Linked DNA regions of Homo sapiens: region 2 is linked to region 1. A link means that fine-mapping ties the variant in region 1 to the expression of a gene that starts in the linked region. Tissue or cell type: blood mononuclear cells. Region 1 holds a variant in brackets; the other region holds the start of a gene. All regions are shown on one strand. Distances are from middle to middle.

Region 1 (8,265 bases):
GGTGATGAAAATAATTGAAAGTGACACAAACAAATGGAAAAACATCCCATGTTTATGGATTGGAAGAGTTTATATTGTTAATATGACTATGTTGCCCAAAGCAATCTACATATTCAATACAATTCCTATGAAAATACCAATGTCATTCACAGACTTAGTAAAAACAATTCTAAAATGTATTAATATATGAAACAAAAAAGCCCAAATAAATAATGTAATCCTGAGCAAAAAGAACAAAGCTAGAGGTATCACATTAAAAGTCTATAGTAACTGAAACAATATGTTATTAGTATAAAAATAGACATATAGATCAATGGAAGAGAATAGAGCACGCAAAAATAAAGCCACATATTTACAGCCAACCGATATTTGATAAAACTGACAAGAACTTACACTGGACAAAAGACACTCTCTTCAATAAATGCTGTTGGGAAAATTAAATAGCCACATGCAGAAGAATGAAACTGGATATTTATCTTTCACCATACACAAAAATCAACCAAGATAGATTAAAGACTTAAATGTAAGACCTGAAACTATAAAAGTACTAGAAGAAAATCTAAAGAAAACTCTCCTGGACATTGGTCTAGGCAAAGAATTTATGACTAATATCTCCAAAGCACAGGCAACAACAACAAAACAATAGAACAATGGAAATTAATTAAACTGAAAAGCTTTTGTACAAAGACATAATCAGTAATGAAGAGAGAACCTTTTGAATGGGAGAAAATATTTACAAAGTATCCAAGAATGGACTAATATTCAGAATATACAAGAAATTCAAACAAGTCAACAGGAAAAAATAAATCCCATTAAAAGGATGCAATGGACATGAAGAGACATTTCTCAAAAGTACAAATAACTAATAGATACATTAAAAAAACTCTACTAATCATTGGAGAAATGCAAATCAAAACCACAATTAGATAATATTTTACCCCAGTTAGAAAGCCTATTATTAAAAATACAAAAATAACGAATATTGGCCAGGATACAGGGTTCCCTTTGGGTATTTACCCAAAGGAAAATAAATCAACATATGGAGTGACACCTGCACTCCTATGTCTATTGAAGCACTATTCACAATAGCAAAGATATGGAATTAACCTAAGTGTTAATTGACATAATATTGACAATGACGTAATATTCAGTCATTAAAAAAATGTCATTTGCAATAACATGGATGGAACTGGAGGTCACTATCTTAAGTGAAATAAACCAGGCACAAAAAGACAAATATCTCATGTTCTCACTTGGATAGCTAGGATACACAGAGGGTAAGGACAGAATGTTGTGAAGTGAGACTAATGGACGAGTAGAGGCAGGTGAAGTCAAGCATAATAGGTCATAGTAGGATTTGGCTTTTGTTCTAAAAGCAGTGTAGCTCCACTAAAGTGACAGGTCATGTCTCATTATCAAATAACTATGGCATCATCAGTGACCTCTGGCTTCTCAGCGCTTCCACGGTTTTTATTGTCTGCATCAGGAATCAGTCATGTAATCAATTTCTACCTTGTATTATTCACGAGTTTATATCATTTTGATGGCAGCAGCAGCCCATCTGGAGTGGCCACTGCCATGATGTCAGCTGCAGTGGGGAAGTTGCAGCCAGGGCTGCTCACTCCATGGAGCCAGTGGGAGCTAGGAACAGGTGGAATCCCCGCCCCATTCCAAGTTGGAGTGGTGGGAGCCCCACCTTCCTGGGCGCAGCTGCAACTGCCCAGCCCCAGCTGCAAACCCAGCCATCTCTGCACTCCTGGGGACTCAGGAAGCCCCCCTCCCCAGGAAGGCTTGAAAGTGCCTGCTCCTGCTACCTGTCTTCTCCCCACTCCCAGTGCCCACTCCGATTTTGAAGCAAAGTTGTGGCTGAGCCCAGGCACTATCATGAGTCGGCCGGGTGTGTGTACACTCAGGACAAACTGACATGTCAACCCCCTGCCACCTTGGCCCACTCCGGACTTTGGGTGCCAACAAGCACAAGAGGGAGGCCAAGGGGGTGCTAAGGGTGACTTAACATGGGCCTTAAGGCACCCCTTGGCATGAACAGCCTGGGTGCCATGGGCATCATGGATGGCAGGTAAATGGCAGCAGGAGGCAGACAGGTTCCTGGGCAGAAAGAGTCAGGTCCTCAGTAAAACCCCACTTTTAGGCCAGGGATGGCCTGAGGCCTGGGGGCTGGTTTGCCAGCTCCACAGACCCGAGTGAGAACTTAAGAGTGCTTTTTCGGAGCCTGCCCATGGCCACCCATGGACCAATCAGCACGCATTTCCTACCTTCTGAAGCCAATAAAAACACCAGATTCAGGCAGACTTGGGCAGATGACAGGACAACCTGCCTGTGGAGAGGAGCTACTGACTGTGGGTCTCCTCTCTGCTGAGAGGTGGACACTCGTCAAGATGATCTGCCTGCGGACAGGAGCTACCTACTGCAGGTCTCCTCTGAGCTGTTCTGTCACTCAATAAAGCACCTTTTCACCTTGCTCACCCTCCACTTGTCCATATGCTTCATTCTTCCTGGACACAATACAAGAACTCAGGACCCACCAAATGGTAGGGCTAAAAGAGCTGTAACACAAACGGCTGAAACACGTCCCTTACTTGCCATGTTGGGGGTGACAAGAAGGAAAGGAGGGAGAAGGAGAGAAGACTTATGGCCCTTCAGAGAGCCCAGACCAATGGGCTCCCTGAAGGCTGTGACACCCTCTTCGGGATCTGTGGTTCCTGGCATCTCCAAGCTTAGGGACAACACTGCATTCCCCGGTGCCAGCCATGGAAGCTGCTTGCAGTACGCTTGGTCAAGCCAAAGCCTCTCAGGGAGTTGGCACCCATGCCAGTGCCTGGAGCTGCCCACCCCACCACAGCTGGTGTGCCTGGCTGTGCACTGTGGCTGGACCCCATGCTCACTCACTCACACACCCCACACACCCCTCACCACTTCGTGTCTGGCTTGCCCTTGGCAGGCCAGGGGATCCTGGCTGGTAGCACAAGCCAAGTGCAGCCTGCCAGGCCAAGTGGGTGGAACAAGCCCAGCATGCGTGAGCAAAACATGGGCAAAGGTGTCACCACCCACAGAGGTTTCTGGCCGGAAAAGCAATGCCCCAAGGCTCCTGTGAGGTTTTCATTTAAATTTCCAACATTGACATGGACTAAGAGTCAAGGGGAAAGGGAACCTCATTTATTGAGTACTTATTCAATTGAAAGCATTGTGTAGGAACTTTGAATATATCATCTTATTTAATCTTCA[T/C]AAAAGCCCATGAGATCAATATCTCCATATTGTTACCAGAAAGTGGTCCCAATTTAGACCCCAAGAGAGGGTTCTTGGATCTTGTGCAAGAAAGAATTCGGGGAGAGTCCATAGAGTAAAGTGAAACCAAGTTTATTAAGAAAATAAAGGAATAAAAACTGGTTACTCCACAGGCAGAGCAGCCCCAAGGGCTGCTGGTTGCCCATTTTATGGTTATTTCTTGGCTATATGCTAAACAAGGGGTGGATTATTCATGAGTTTTCAGGGAAAGGGATGGGCGATTCTGAGAACTGAGGGTTCCTTCCCTTTTTAGACCGTATGGGATAACTTACTTCCTGACGTTCCCATGGCATTTGTGAACTGTCATGGCACTGGTGGGAGTGTCTTCTACCATGCTAATGCATTATAATTAGCATATAACGAGCAGTGAGGACAACTACAGGTTACTCTTGTCACCATCTTGGTTTTGGTGGGTTTTGGCCAGCTTCTTTACTGTAACCTGTTTTATCAGCAACATCTTGTGCTGACCTCCTATGTTATCCTGTGACTTAGAGTGATCTGTAGCTTGTGCCTAACCTCCTGGGAATACAACCCAATAGGTCTCAGCCTAATTTTACCCAGCCCCTATTCAAGATGGAGTTTTTCTGGTTTAAATGCTTCTGACAGTATGACAAAAGAGGTCGACTCAAGAACAATCCCCAATCAACAACAGTCCAAGCTTACTGACCTCTAGTAAACTGTGAGTCTGGGTGCTTTTGCAATAAGATCACAAATTGCAGAAGTGTTCAAACACTGCATATATCACTGGTATGTCTTCTCCCAATTCTTAGAAGACTAGGTCTATTTCCTATTTAGTATAGCCTGATCCAAAAGGCAGTTTGCCCTTGTTAATCAGTTTTTTTTTTTTTTCAAATCTGCGGGGCTTAAGAAAAGTAGAGAAATGTTAATACTTGGTTTTTTAGGAAAATTCTATTATAAGGCACATTTTTGTGATCATGCCACTGCACTCCAGCCTGAGGAACAAAGTGAGACTCCTTCTTCCCCCTCATCACCCAAAAAAAGATTCTAGGAATCATTTTTCACAATAAAGTCATCAACAAATGTCCATTTGCAAGGAAAAATGGCTAGTGGCTGATTTTCAAGTGTTCTTTGGAAATATGATTTTAAACACTTCATAAGCTTAACAATAGAACAGCACTGGCCTGTCTGTTGTTAACCTTTACATAATAAAATTAATTAGGAATAATAACTCAACCCATGCAGAATTTGTCCATGATTTAAATGAAGAGAATGTTGTTAGCCCAGTTTATATCAGAAAATTAGCAATTTTACTTGGTAATGCGAATCTTCTGGTTATATTTGTTTGTGTGTTTGTTGGCTTGCTTGCCTTAAATTTATGATTTACTTAATGATGTCAAACTAAGTATGTGCTTTAGCTTAGGTTTACAACAAAATAATAGGCTAAATTCACAGAGCGCCATGGTGTCTCGAATTAGAAAATAATTTGCCTTTGCTTTTCTTGAAATAGAGGAAACAGTTTTGCTTTAAAGTACCAGTGCAGTGTTTTCTAAAAGAGGTCAAGCTGAAACTGGTGTTTAACCTGGAGAGGCTTCCGTGAATTTCTAATGGAGTTTTAGAAAGACTGTATTTCCTGATTTAATAATACATATGACTGCAGTGAAGGAGCATTTTAATATGACTCTGAATCTGAGTGCAACACACAGTCTTATGAGAGAGAAACAAGAGGGAGGGAAGGAAGGAAAAAAAGGAGGGAGGGAGAGAAAGGAAAGGAAAATAGGATATATTATTCAAATTTGTTGTTACAATACTATGTGAATGTGAAGTTAAGGATTTAAAGTAGCTAGCAGAAATATATATTCTGTAGGACATTATTTTTAGTCTGATGCCAATGATGCAATAATAATTATAGTCACTACCATTTACTGAGTTCTGACTAGGAGGTGGGCGCTGTGGTAGGCATCATTCATTATGCCAGCTGGTCCTCACCATACCCCAAGAAGTGGATATGAATTATACACACATTTTAAAGACAAAAAGCCTGCAGCTTAAGAGAGCTATGGAGCTTGAGGAAGGTGCCAGAACTAGAAATGGAAAGCAAAAGCCCTCTCAGGTCCAACTCCGGAGTTTAACACTCATTACATGTTCATCCATTTATCTTATTTGTTTTATGCTTTTCAGTTTTCATTTGTTATTCTTTTTGGGGAGAAGGTACACATTTAAAAGTGCTTACTGAAGAAAATAATCTTTTGTTTTAAACCCTAGGGCTCGCCAGACATTTTTTTTTTTTTTTTTTGAGAAGGAGTCTTGCTCTGTCACCCAGGCTGTGGAATGCAGTGGCACAATCTCGGCTCATGGCAACCTCCACCTCCTGGGTTCAAGTGATTCTCCTGCCTCAGCCTCCTAAGTAGCTGGGATTACAGGCATGTGCCACAACGCCTGGCTAATTTTTGTATTTTTAGTAGAGATGAGGTTTCACCATGTTGGTCAGGCTGGTCTCAAACTCCCGACCTCCTGATCCACCTGACTCGGCCTCCCAAAGTGCTGGGATTACAGGCGTGAGCCACTGCGCCCAGCCCCAAGACAAACTTCTAAGGGACCATATAATTTATTCAAATATATCTGTGAATATAGCAAGCATTCACATACACACACACACACGCACACACACACACACACACGCAGCATGTCTCTTCCTGCACATCCTTAAAAATCACATCAAACCCTGCAAAAGAAAAGTCATACATAATAATAAGAATCTGGATTTCATGTCTGTGTTATTTTACTTATCTATCTCACCTGCATCTCTCAGATTACTATTACATTTTAGCAAGTAAAATAATAGATAATAGGAGAGAATGTAAATCTGCTATATCCTAAGATATATACTTGTTACTCTTATGAAGGTATACTATACTCTTTAGAGCAAACTGTACTTGGTAAATCATCTTTTTGAGTTCCTCAAAATGTTGCTAATAAAATAAAATGTAAAGTTTGCAAGTCCATTTTCGTAAAAATTCCCAGTCTGCAATTTTATAAAACTAGCACCTAATTTAAAATCAGCCTTCAACTATGTGAACCTGGAGAGAATACATGCATTACCTGAAGGCCAAATCCCTGTATTCTACAATTCTTTGTAGGACTTTCTTAGCATGTAATTTTAGAGTATCCAAACTATTTCTTTCCTCCACCTACATCATCATTTTACACACAGCGAAATGTGGTCATTTTTTCTGCTTAAGTGGTACATACTACAGATCTTATGACAGAATGTGCTAAAGTGGACACACTTTTCATGTTCATAAAAGTGGGGAAGATGCCACTCTTGTTGTAACTTTTTAGTTTAAAAAAGAAAGACAATGCCAAAATTCTTCCAAAGAAGGACTGTAAAGAGAAAAGGGGAGAAGGGGACATATTCCCCCATGCCAGCAGTGGTAGTGAGGGAGCAGAGTTGGAACATAGCTTCAGACAGTGGTGATAGGAGGCAACAGGAAATGCCATTGCTCTACCCACATTTCTTTGGATTCTTTACCAACTCTTGCACTCATCCTCCCTGTGTACTATCCCCTACAACAGTCAGCACCTGTATCTCTTAATTTGCGAGGTGGCCTCAGACTGCTAGATCCCCTTTGAGAACTGATGTAAAGTTGGAATCTCCTGGATATTTATATCACTCCTGGGGAAGCCTTTAACTACAGATTAATCTGTAGCTACCCCTACTCCCTTCCCTCTATGGAGGAGGGATCTAAGGTGTGACCTTTGAATCTGCACTTCAAAACTGAGCCAAAGTTTTCTTAGCAGAACTTTGATACTATGCCCTTGCTTGGCCAAATTTTCTTTCCACTCCCATTTCTTCACACCCCAATTTTTCCAGCGAACACTAACTATGTTCTTTTCATATAAATTTTCATGTCAGTGTCTGCTTCTGAAGAAATAACATGGTGTTGAGTCTCTGCCAAGTAGGGGCTGCACTGGCTACTCTGCCTAAAGTAAGAGACTGAAATAATGGTCTTTTCAGTGGAAGAAGCCCCACTAGCCTAGGGAAACAGAAAGAATTTCTCTGAATGGAAATAAGAAAAAGAAAATGCTACCATGAGAAAGTGAGACCCATGCCTCCAAAACATGCACATATGAAATCAGAATTTACATGCTTGTCGAGAACAAGAATCCTCAAGCTAAGAAATTAACATTAAAAAACTTGTCTTGAGTGGGTAAGATGCAGATGGAAATTCAAAACTACCCTGCAAAATTTCTGCCATGCACAAGACAAGCAACTCCCATAGGAGGGAGGGTAGGGAGAGGATGTGGTGGATAATGACAGAAGCTCACAGTCCAAAAAATTACAGACCACACAAAGAAATGGTTTCACATCGATGAAGTCTCATTTCAACAACTGGATGATTCTATGATCTGAAAAAAGAAAAAACCTATATAATCAGTATGTTTAAAATGATTGAAGAAAGTAATATAGAATGCAAATCATAATGAAAGAAAATTCATCATAAAATAACAGACACTTAAAGAAGACTGTAGTATAACATCTATAAAGATTATGATGGCAGATTAAACACACGCCCAGAATTTATTCACTCCAGAAACGCTGCCAAAATTACAAGCCCCAAAAAACCTTTTAATCCACAAAGATGAAGAGAGCAGCAGGGGAGACAACAGTGACAGGTCTTTGAAACCTGAAAAGCAGATAACCAGTGTCAGTGACTTGTGAAACCTGTGAAAGATGAATAAAAATTGGCTGAAAAACTAATAACAAAATCCATTCCACCACAGAGTCTTCCAAAGATTCTGGAACTACCAACACCCAATTAACTCTAGACTTGTAATTTAGGGAAAAGTGACTCCATGAAAAAGAGTGAGAAAAGCTGTTTCTGAAGCAGCTAGATTTCTACTAGATTCCTTCTCCTTTCCCTTTCCCAGTTTGTTCTTCAGAACTATTAACTCTGCCCAAGAAATTTGAAGGACTTTTTCCTGGAAAGGATAAAAACAAAA
Region 2 (8,000 bases), 320 kb after region 1:
CATCTGTGAAATGGGCATCTGACTGCCTAGTACCTTCCTCATAGGTTTGCTGTGAGAATTTGACAGCGTATGCATGTTGCAGTTAGCATGATGTCTCACATAGGCTGAGCATTGGATAAATTTCAGCTATTCTTACTAATTCTTGTGACTCTCAGCAAGCCACATAGAATCTCTGTGCCCACATTCTCACTCACTGAAGGAAGATTACATCAACCATACTAAATTAGTCAGCATAGGCTAACTGCTGAAACAAGGGACCCCTCAAATCTCAGTGCATTATTTCTCATTCACTTCATTGTCCAGTGAGGGTTGCTGGGATTGGAATGAGGTCCATACAGGCACTCAGAGGCCAAGTCACCTTCTATCTAGTGGCTCTGCCATATACCCGGGACCTGTATTATGTTGGCAGAGGACGAACAATAGCACAAAGGACTGGGTTTTATAGGGACCCAGCCTGGAAGTGGCATATATCAATTCTACCTCTATTCCATTGGCCAGAATTCAGTCACATGAGCTGCACCTAACCACAAGAAGTCAGTTTGGGAAATAATACGCAGCTATGTGTTCCAGAGGAAATGGAAACAAGATTTGGTGCAACACAGCAGACTCTGTCACACCTACCTAACCTCCTCAGAGGGTTGCTAATAAAAGCGCATGTGAACGCCAAGTGTGAAACTGCTATGGAAAGTGATAAACTAACATGAGCTACAGGTGATGCTGCTGCTATTGATTAAGCCAGGGAGTTTCTGTGCATCCTCCACATTGCTAAAACATACAGCAATTTGGGTATGAGAAGAAACCGAAATATAATCAGAAGGTCCTTCCTCCTGTAGGGGAGACTCTTTAACTAGTAAGGCTTTATTTCTCCACTTGTATCTTCAAAAATGGGCCACTCTGGGAGCGGTGACTCACGCCTGTAATCCCAGCACTTTGGGAAGCCGAAGGGGGTGGATCACAAGGTCAGGAGTTCGAGACCAGCCTGGCCAATATGGTGAAACCCCATCTCTACTAAAAATACAAAATTAGCCAGGCAAGGTGGCACATGCCTGTAATCTCAGCTACTAGGGAGGCTGAGACAGGAGAATTGCTTGAATCCAGGAGGCGGAGGTTGCAGTGAGCCAAGTTGCACCACTGCACTCCAGCCTGGGCGACAGAGCGAGAATCTGTCTCAAAAAAAAAAAAAAAAAAGGCCACTGCAGGTAAATAATCTCCTTTCTTTGCCCATTGGTCCAATCCACATGGGCGTGTGGTGAAACTGGAGGGAAAAAAAGGGAGCGAGCAGAATAAAAGAGCAGAAAGCTATTACTTTGAGGAGTGTAATTGTCAGAGCAGGCTGTCAGAGCAGCCTGAAGCAATCACTCAGTAGGGGCCAGCCTCCACAGCAGTAATTTATCACCACATGAAGATGTTGGGGAGTTAATCACAGCACTGACATGTGTCAGCTCCAGGCATTGGGCTCAGCATAAACTTCATGCTTAGAAAATGAAAATAATTAAGAGGGCACACATTTGAAATGTACCACTAAAAAGGGAAGGCAGTCATCTTAGGGTCAGGTGAATGCCATGTTTGTAATCCACTAAACCAACTGGAAGAGCCTGTGGAGGGCAAATGTGTCCAAGGGTACTTTGCTATTTGTACCTGATAGATGCCTTTCACACTGTTTTGAGTCTCTGCATGGCCTGTCATGAAAGAGAAAAGCAAACACAATTTGCACAGGCTTTGCTACATGAATATTAGTGCTTCAGGAATGCTCTAAGATCCTGCCAGCTGCGGCTCAGGAAGGGGTCCAGGCCAGATCTGACTCATCCTGCTGCCTTCCTCCTGGAAATGATCCCCTTTCTCACCCCACTCCTGCTGGCTGAGCCCAGGTCCTGTCTGTCCCATATTTCCTTTGATCCAAGGAAAACTAAAAGTGGTTACTAGCTCCCAAGCGGCCTTTGTTTATAAATGGGTTCCCACCTTAATATGTTTACTCAAAAAACTCGTCAAATAATTAGCTATAACAGAGCAATCAAACTGATCAAACAGTTCTTGGAGTAGTTCAAACCTTCAGAGAGTTATTTAATGACAGTTTTAAATAACTGAACTGGGGTCTTCCAGCATAGAGAAGTAGGGATTGTGGCAGAAACTGCGAGGGAGAATTTTTAAAGTGCTTAGAATAAAAATCTTTTCATTGAAAAAAAATGACAAGAATTGCCCACATAATTATGGCAATTTTTCCTTTCCTTTTGCAATGCAAATTCCTGGCAGAGTGTAAGAGAAACTGAGCTCCACTGTCCCAGTTTTTCAAACTAAGAAAATAAAATAATTTGCTACCTAAACTTTCAACTTCTACTTTTGAAAGCTAAATTTAAGTTTTAAGAATCGTACAACAAAAGAGACTACAGATAAACCTCATTACAATTTTTTAGTATTGAGCATTAGGTTATTTATTTTCCTTCTTCCTAAAGCTACTGTAGAAAGAAAATTCAAAGGACTAGTAAGAAAAATAGCTCAATTGATAACAAGTCTGGTTTGTCAATGACATGCTAATACCTGTAACAGTTACTAATTATCTCAGCAGTGTGTCTCAGTTTTTATATTTAATATATTCTTCATCATTCTTAAATTAATAAATAGCAACCAATTGTTTTCTCTTTTACAAGCTTCATATGGAAAGAAAATTGAAAAAAAAAATTTGTATTAGCAGAAAGTGAATATAAGGGACTTCCCAACCTCCCCTCCATATATTTACTGACAAGCAACTGACATGAGTGATAGCAAAGCAATGTGGTTAGTGAGGAATGGCGCAGAGTGTGCAGTTTCCTTTTTTCTAATGTTGATTTGTTTTCTGTGCTGACACAATCCTAGAGGTTACTGTTCAAAGGAAGCATCGACAACAGAAGTGATTAGAGTACTGATTAAAAGAAGATTTTTAAGAAAATGACCAATCACCATCAATCTTAATATTGGCTAACAAATGTGTATTTTTCTTTCTCATATTATTAAGTAAATAGTATAAACAGAATAATTCTTTATTAGTATATCCATATAGTGCCTTTTGCAAGTAAATATGATTCTGGATATTTTATGACCTGTAATTACTTGAAATCGGAAAGCCCTTTTAGTTTCTCTTATTACCCATGTGTTGCTGAGACTAACTGAAGAACCAGTTAGGAGGTTTGTTCGTTCACGAAATAACATTTAAGAAATGGGTACCTGCTTATCACATAAAAGAATCCAGTTATTTACTTACCCTGTGAGGAGACATAATATGTTAGAATGCTTGTACACTGCAGATGGGAAGAGGTTTTTCCAGGAATTTAAATTGTGCAATAAGGCCACACAATCTTACTTAAAAAAAATGGTGAAGGGGTTTTAATTACACCATGAAGTTTTACAATTTTTTAGGTTTTTAGTTCTGGTTTTAGAAAACAGAGTAGAAGGATTACAGAGAAAAACTTCACCATTAGACAAGAAGTCAAAATGATTCTAAGGGCCGCGCAAACAGGCTTTTCCAAGAATTAATCATGAGGTGGTGCTTGGAGAATTCCTTTACTCCAGTGACTTTGAAACCCCCTTCTCACTCTCCACTAGTCTTTCAAAGGATTCATGGTGAATTGGGTCTAACGAGTATAACACGGCCGGCCGAAGGCATGAAGCTCACGCTACCCTTTCAGGGCGGAGAAGTTCCCAGGAGGAAGAATGGAGAAAAAGATCGCAGTTAGGCAGTCCTCCCAACCTCACCAAGGCTCCACCTCTCTCCAAAGCCGCAAGGCTCTGCCACCTGCGCCGGGAGAGGCTGCAATCACTGTCTCCTCCTCTTTCTTTCTCTTTTTTTTTTTTCTTTTTTGCCTGGGGTGCCCGACCAAGCGCAGCCCGCAGTCTGGGCACTGCCAACTGACTCCAACTCCTTTTATGGTGAGAGGATGGATTCTTCGTTATTTCCCCGCCCAATCTGGTACCCACCCACCCACCCACCTACCACGTCCGCTGGGCGCACCCAAGTCTAACCCCGGGGCGCACGCGCTAGCGCAGACACCGTATTTCTTCTCCTTTCTCGGCCAACCCTAGGTAGAATCCTAAAACAACTGCCCTCTCTTCCACGATCTAGATGTTGCGGCCCGCGGACAGGAGGTTCAAGAAATAGTACACTCCGAGCGGCAGGCAGCGAGGCGGAAACGGTCGCCGGTTTCAGTGGTGGCCCCACTGGAAGCCGAGTTCAGGAGCGGCTAAGCGGTCGCCGGGGAAAGCACCGGGGCTTCCCAGGGTCCCCTCCGAGTTCCCACTCCGCACCTCCGAGGGCGTGAAAACCACGGGAGCCGCCCCACCCCGCGCGCCCAGCCCCGCCCCAGCCCAGACACCGCCCCCCGCCAGTCTTCCCTGCGGCGCCCAGGGAGGACGCGCTCCGCCCCCTTCCAATCCGGCCAATGGGCGCCCGGGCAGCGCGCGGTTTGCCTCCGCCTCCGCCAGGGAAACTTGGAGGAGGAGAAAAGTTTGTACAGAGGGTGGAAAGGCGAGAGCGGAGCTCCAAGCCCGGCAGCCCGAGAGGAAGATGAACAGCCCCAGGCCAGAGCCTCTGGCAGAGTGGACCCCGAGCCGCCCCCAGGTAGCCAGGAGCGGCCTCAGCGGCAGCCGCAAACTCCAGTAGCCGCCCGTGCTGCCCGTGGCTGGGGCGGAGGGCAGCCAGAGCTGGGGACCAAGGCTCCGCGCCACCTGCGCGCACAGCCTCACACCTGAACGCTGTCCTCCCGCAGACGAGACCGGCGGGCACTGCAAAGCTGGGACTCGTCTTTGAAGGAAAAAAAATAGCGAGTAAGAAATCCAGCACCATTCTTCACTGACCCATCCCGCTGCACCTCTTGTTTCCCAAGTTTTTGAAAGCTGGCAACTCTGACCTCGGTGTCCAAAAATCGACAGCCACTGAGACCGGCTTTGAGAAGCCGAAGATTTGGCAGTTTCCAGACTGAGCAGGACAAGGTGAAAGCAGGTTGGAGGCGGGTCCAGGACATCTGAGGGCTGACCCTGGGGGCTCGTGAGGCTGCCACCGCTGCTGCCGCTACAGGTGAGATGGCGTTGGGCTGACGTTGGGGTCAACGGGTAGAGAACGCAGGGATGCGGCCCTCGCCGAAGAGAGCCAAGAAGGGAAGAGCGCGCTCTCCAAATTGCTTTTGTAACTTGTTTTCAGTGAGCATTTTATTGATTCAGAATCTATCGAGAATAGCACTAGCGAGCTACTTTTCCCTTGAGATGGGTCTTATTCATCTTGGCAATGGAGTGAGTTGGATTGTGGGGAGGAAGAGGAATGGGAAAATCAGTTTATAAATATTAATGTCAGCAAGAGTGTGCTGTTGGCAGGACGTATCGCGAGCCTGGAGATTTTGGTGGCCGCAGTTGGTAAGTGGCTACAATCCAGAAAGTAGGATCGAGTTGCTCCCCTTGTCTTATCAGTGTATCGTTTCTCGGGCGCGGGTCTAACACCTTACAAGTGGTAATTTCCGCTCACGGCAGCTTTGTCTCTCTTCTACCATCCCCAGACCCAGCCTTGCACTCCAAGGCTGCGCACCGCCAGCCACTATCATGTCCACTCCCGGGGTCAATTCGTCCGCCTCCTTGAGCCCCGACCGGCTGAACAGCCCAGTGACCATCCCGGCGGTGATGTTCATCTTCGGGGTGGTGGGCAACCTGGTGGCCATCGTGGTGCTGTGCAAGTCGCGCAAGGAGCAGAAGGAGACGACCTTCTACACGCTGGTATGTGGGCTGGCTGTCACCGACCTGTTGGGCACTTTGTTGGTGAGCCCGGTGACCATCGCCACGTACATGAAGGGCCAATGGCCCGGGGGCCAGCCGCTGTGCGAGTACAGCACCTTCATTCTGCTCTTCTTCAGCCTGTCCGGCCTCAGCATCATCTGCGCCATGAGTGTCGAGCGCTACCTGGCCATCAACCATGCCTATTTCTACAGCCACTACGTGGACAAGCGATTGGCGGGCCTCACGCTCTTTGCAGTCTATGCGTCCAACGTGCTCTTTTGCGCGCTGCCCAACATGGGTCTCGGTAGCTCGCGGCTGCAGTACCCAGACACCTGGTGCTTCATCGACTGGACCACCAACGTGACGGCGCACGCCGCCTACTCCTACATGTACGCGGGCTTCAGCTCCTTCCTCATTCTCGCCACCGTCCTCTGCAACGTGCTTGTGTGCGGCGCGCTGCTCCGCATGCACCGCCAGTTCATGCGCCGCACCTCGCTGGGCACCGAGCAGCACCACGCGGCCGCGGCCGCCTCGGTTGCCTCCCGGGGCCACCCCGCTGCCTCCCCAGCCTTGCCGCGCCTCAGCGACTTTCGGCGCCGCCGGAGCTTCCGCCGCATCGCGGGCGCCGAGATCCAGATGGTCATCTTACTCATTGCCACCTCCCTGGTGGTGCTCATCTGCTCCATCCCGCTCGTGGTGAGTGACCGGGGCTGGGGCCCTACTCGGCCTTTTTCTCGCATCCACCTCCCGCGTCCATTCCCCGCTCCCTGCTTTCCCTCTGAGTCCTTGGCAGTGAACGTGTCGCCTTTAGGTCGGGGCTGGGATTCCCACACTGTTTCTCAGAGCAGGCCCAACCCTCTTTGAAGTCCCAACCCTAACGAGATTTAGCAGGTGCTTTGCCCCTACATCCCCCAGTTTATGTTCCCGGAAGCCTGGGTTTCTTTCTCCACCGAGACAGCCCTTACCCCTTGCTGCCTGACACTGGCCGAGTCTTCCAAGAAAACCCCCCGCCCCCTCTGTTAGACGTGGAGGGGAGCCTGCTGTAGTGTGACTTAGCCCATTCCTCCGTACTGTGAACTGTGAACTGCAAAACCTGAAATGTCAGGGATGGTGATCTGTTCGTTGTAAACCATTTTTAAGGAAAGTGGGGTTTTTGGTGTTTTGATGTATGCAAGGTTTCTTGAATTTCTTCCCCCGTGGATTGCGTAGAATTTTAAAGCTAGAAGAGATATCAAGAGGTGTTTTAGTCTAACTCCCTCACTTCACTGAGGGAGTGAATGATACGCTTAAAATAATCCAGCCGAACCTACACAGTCAAGCTAGGCTCCCTGCTCTTTACCATGGTGTGCCCTGGGAGGGCAGCTTAAAGCACACAAATTCTAATTCATATACAGGGCAGGGTCCAGACTCAGTTTCTTTCATTCTGTCTAGACCAGGAAAGCAAAGTTTCTCAGGGTGACTAATTATGGACAGGCTGATATACATAGGGTATGGGATTTGAATTCTCGACAACTGTGCGAGGTACAGTACCATTTTAGAGAAACCGAGGTTTAGAGATGGCTGTCTTTGTTTCTTCAAGCCAAAGCTCTACAGCTTGTAATGGACCTTAGGCCGTCTGAGGCCAGACCCAGCTCATGTGTTATTACATCACGTCTCCCTCGTAGAACATTTCTCATTTTGGCGTTTGTAAAGCGTGGGTTGGAGTTTTGGTACACTTCATTTTTAGTTCATCTTTTAAGAATTGCCTTTGGATTAACTTTTAAAATATGATAAACAGAAAGGCTCAAACCCTACCTAGTTTTCTACTTTGCCTGTGGCTAAAATGGAATGCACCAGAAGCAGATGGGCAGAATAATGCAATACTTTATCTAGAGTTTCTCTTGAAAGCAACTAGTTATGAGTTCTTCCATCTTCCAAAACACTGCATTCCTGGAAATTCTAAACTACCAACTCAAAAAGAGATAACTGCTTTTTCTTATGCTTGTTGGGAACAAGAGAATATAAAATGTAATGGGCTATTATTCCTTCCTTTTCCTTATTGATACTGTCCAGGGATCTTTGGTGTAAAAATATATCTTTGATAAAAGTGACTGTAAATGGAAGGAACTTAGAGGGGGCTCAGAGCCAGAATACAGTAGGTTCTTACCAATTTGTATAAACAGAAGTAAATATAATAGGCCATAAGAGCCTTTAAGCCATTCCAGGACCCAATATAATTTACAGAGTTAAGTCACACTTGAGCCACATAAATATATTTTACTGTCTGTAAT

What was found. PIP is the estimated chance that this variant, and not a neighbour inherited with it, causes the effect.
Region 2: PTGER4 starts here. The variant in region 1 is fine-mapped to the expression of PTGER4 in blood mononuclear cells (TOPMed, PIP above 0.99).

What each region holds. Positions count from the first base shown.
Region 1 is chr5:40,352,491-40,360,755 of GRCh38, forward strand. No RefSeq gene overlaps it. Among named protein-coding and RNA genes, the nearest start is that of LINC00604, 120 kb to the left of the region's middle. The variant T/C (reference allele first, on the strand shown) is at 3,244.
Region 2 is chr5:40,675,435-40,683,434 of GRCh38, forward strand. It overlaps PTGER4 (prostaglandin E receptor 4), which reads left to right and starts at 4,481. Exons shown (of 3, transcript NM_000958.3): 1 at 4,481-5,044; 2 at 5,517-6,426. The coding sequence starts at 5,560. RefSeq lists a silencer at 4,144-4,363 and an enhancer at 5,499-6,026.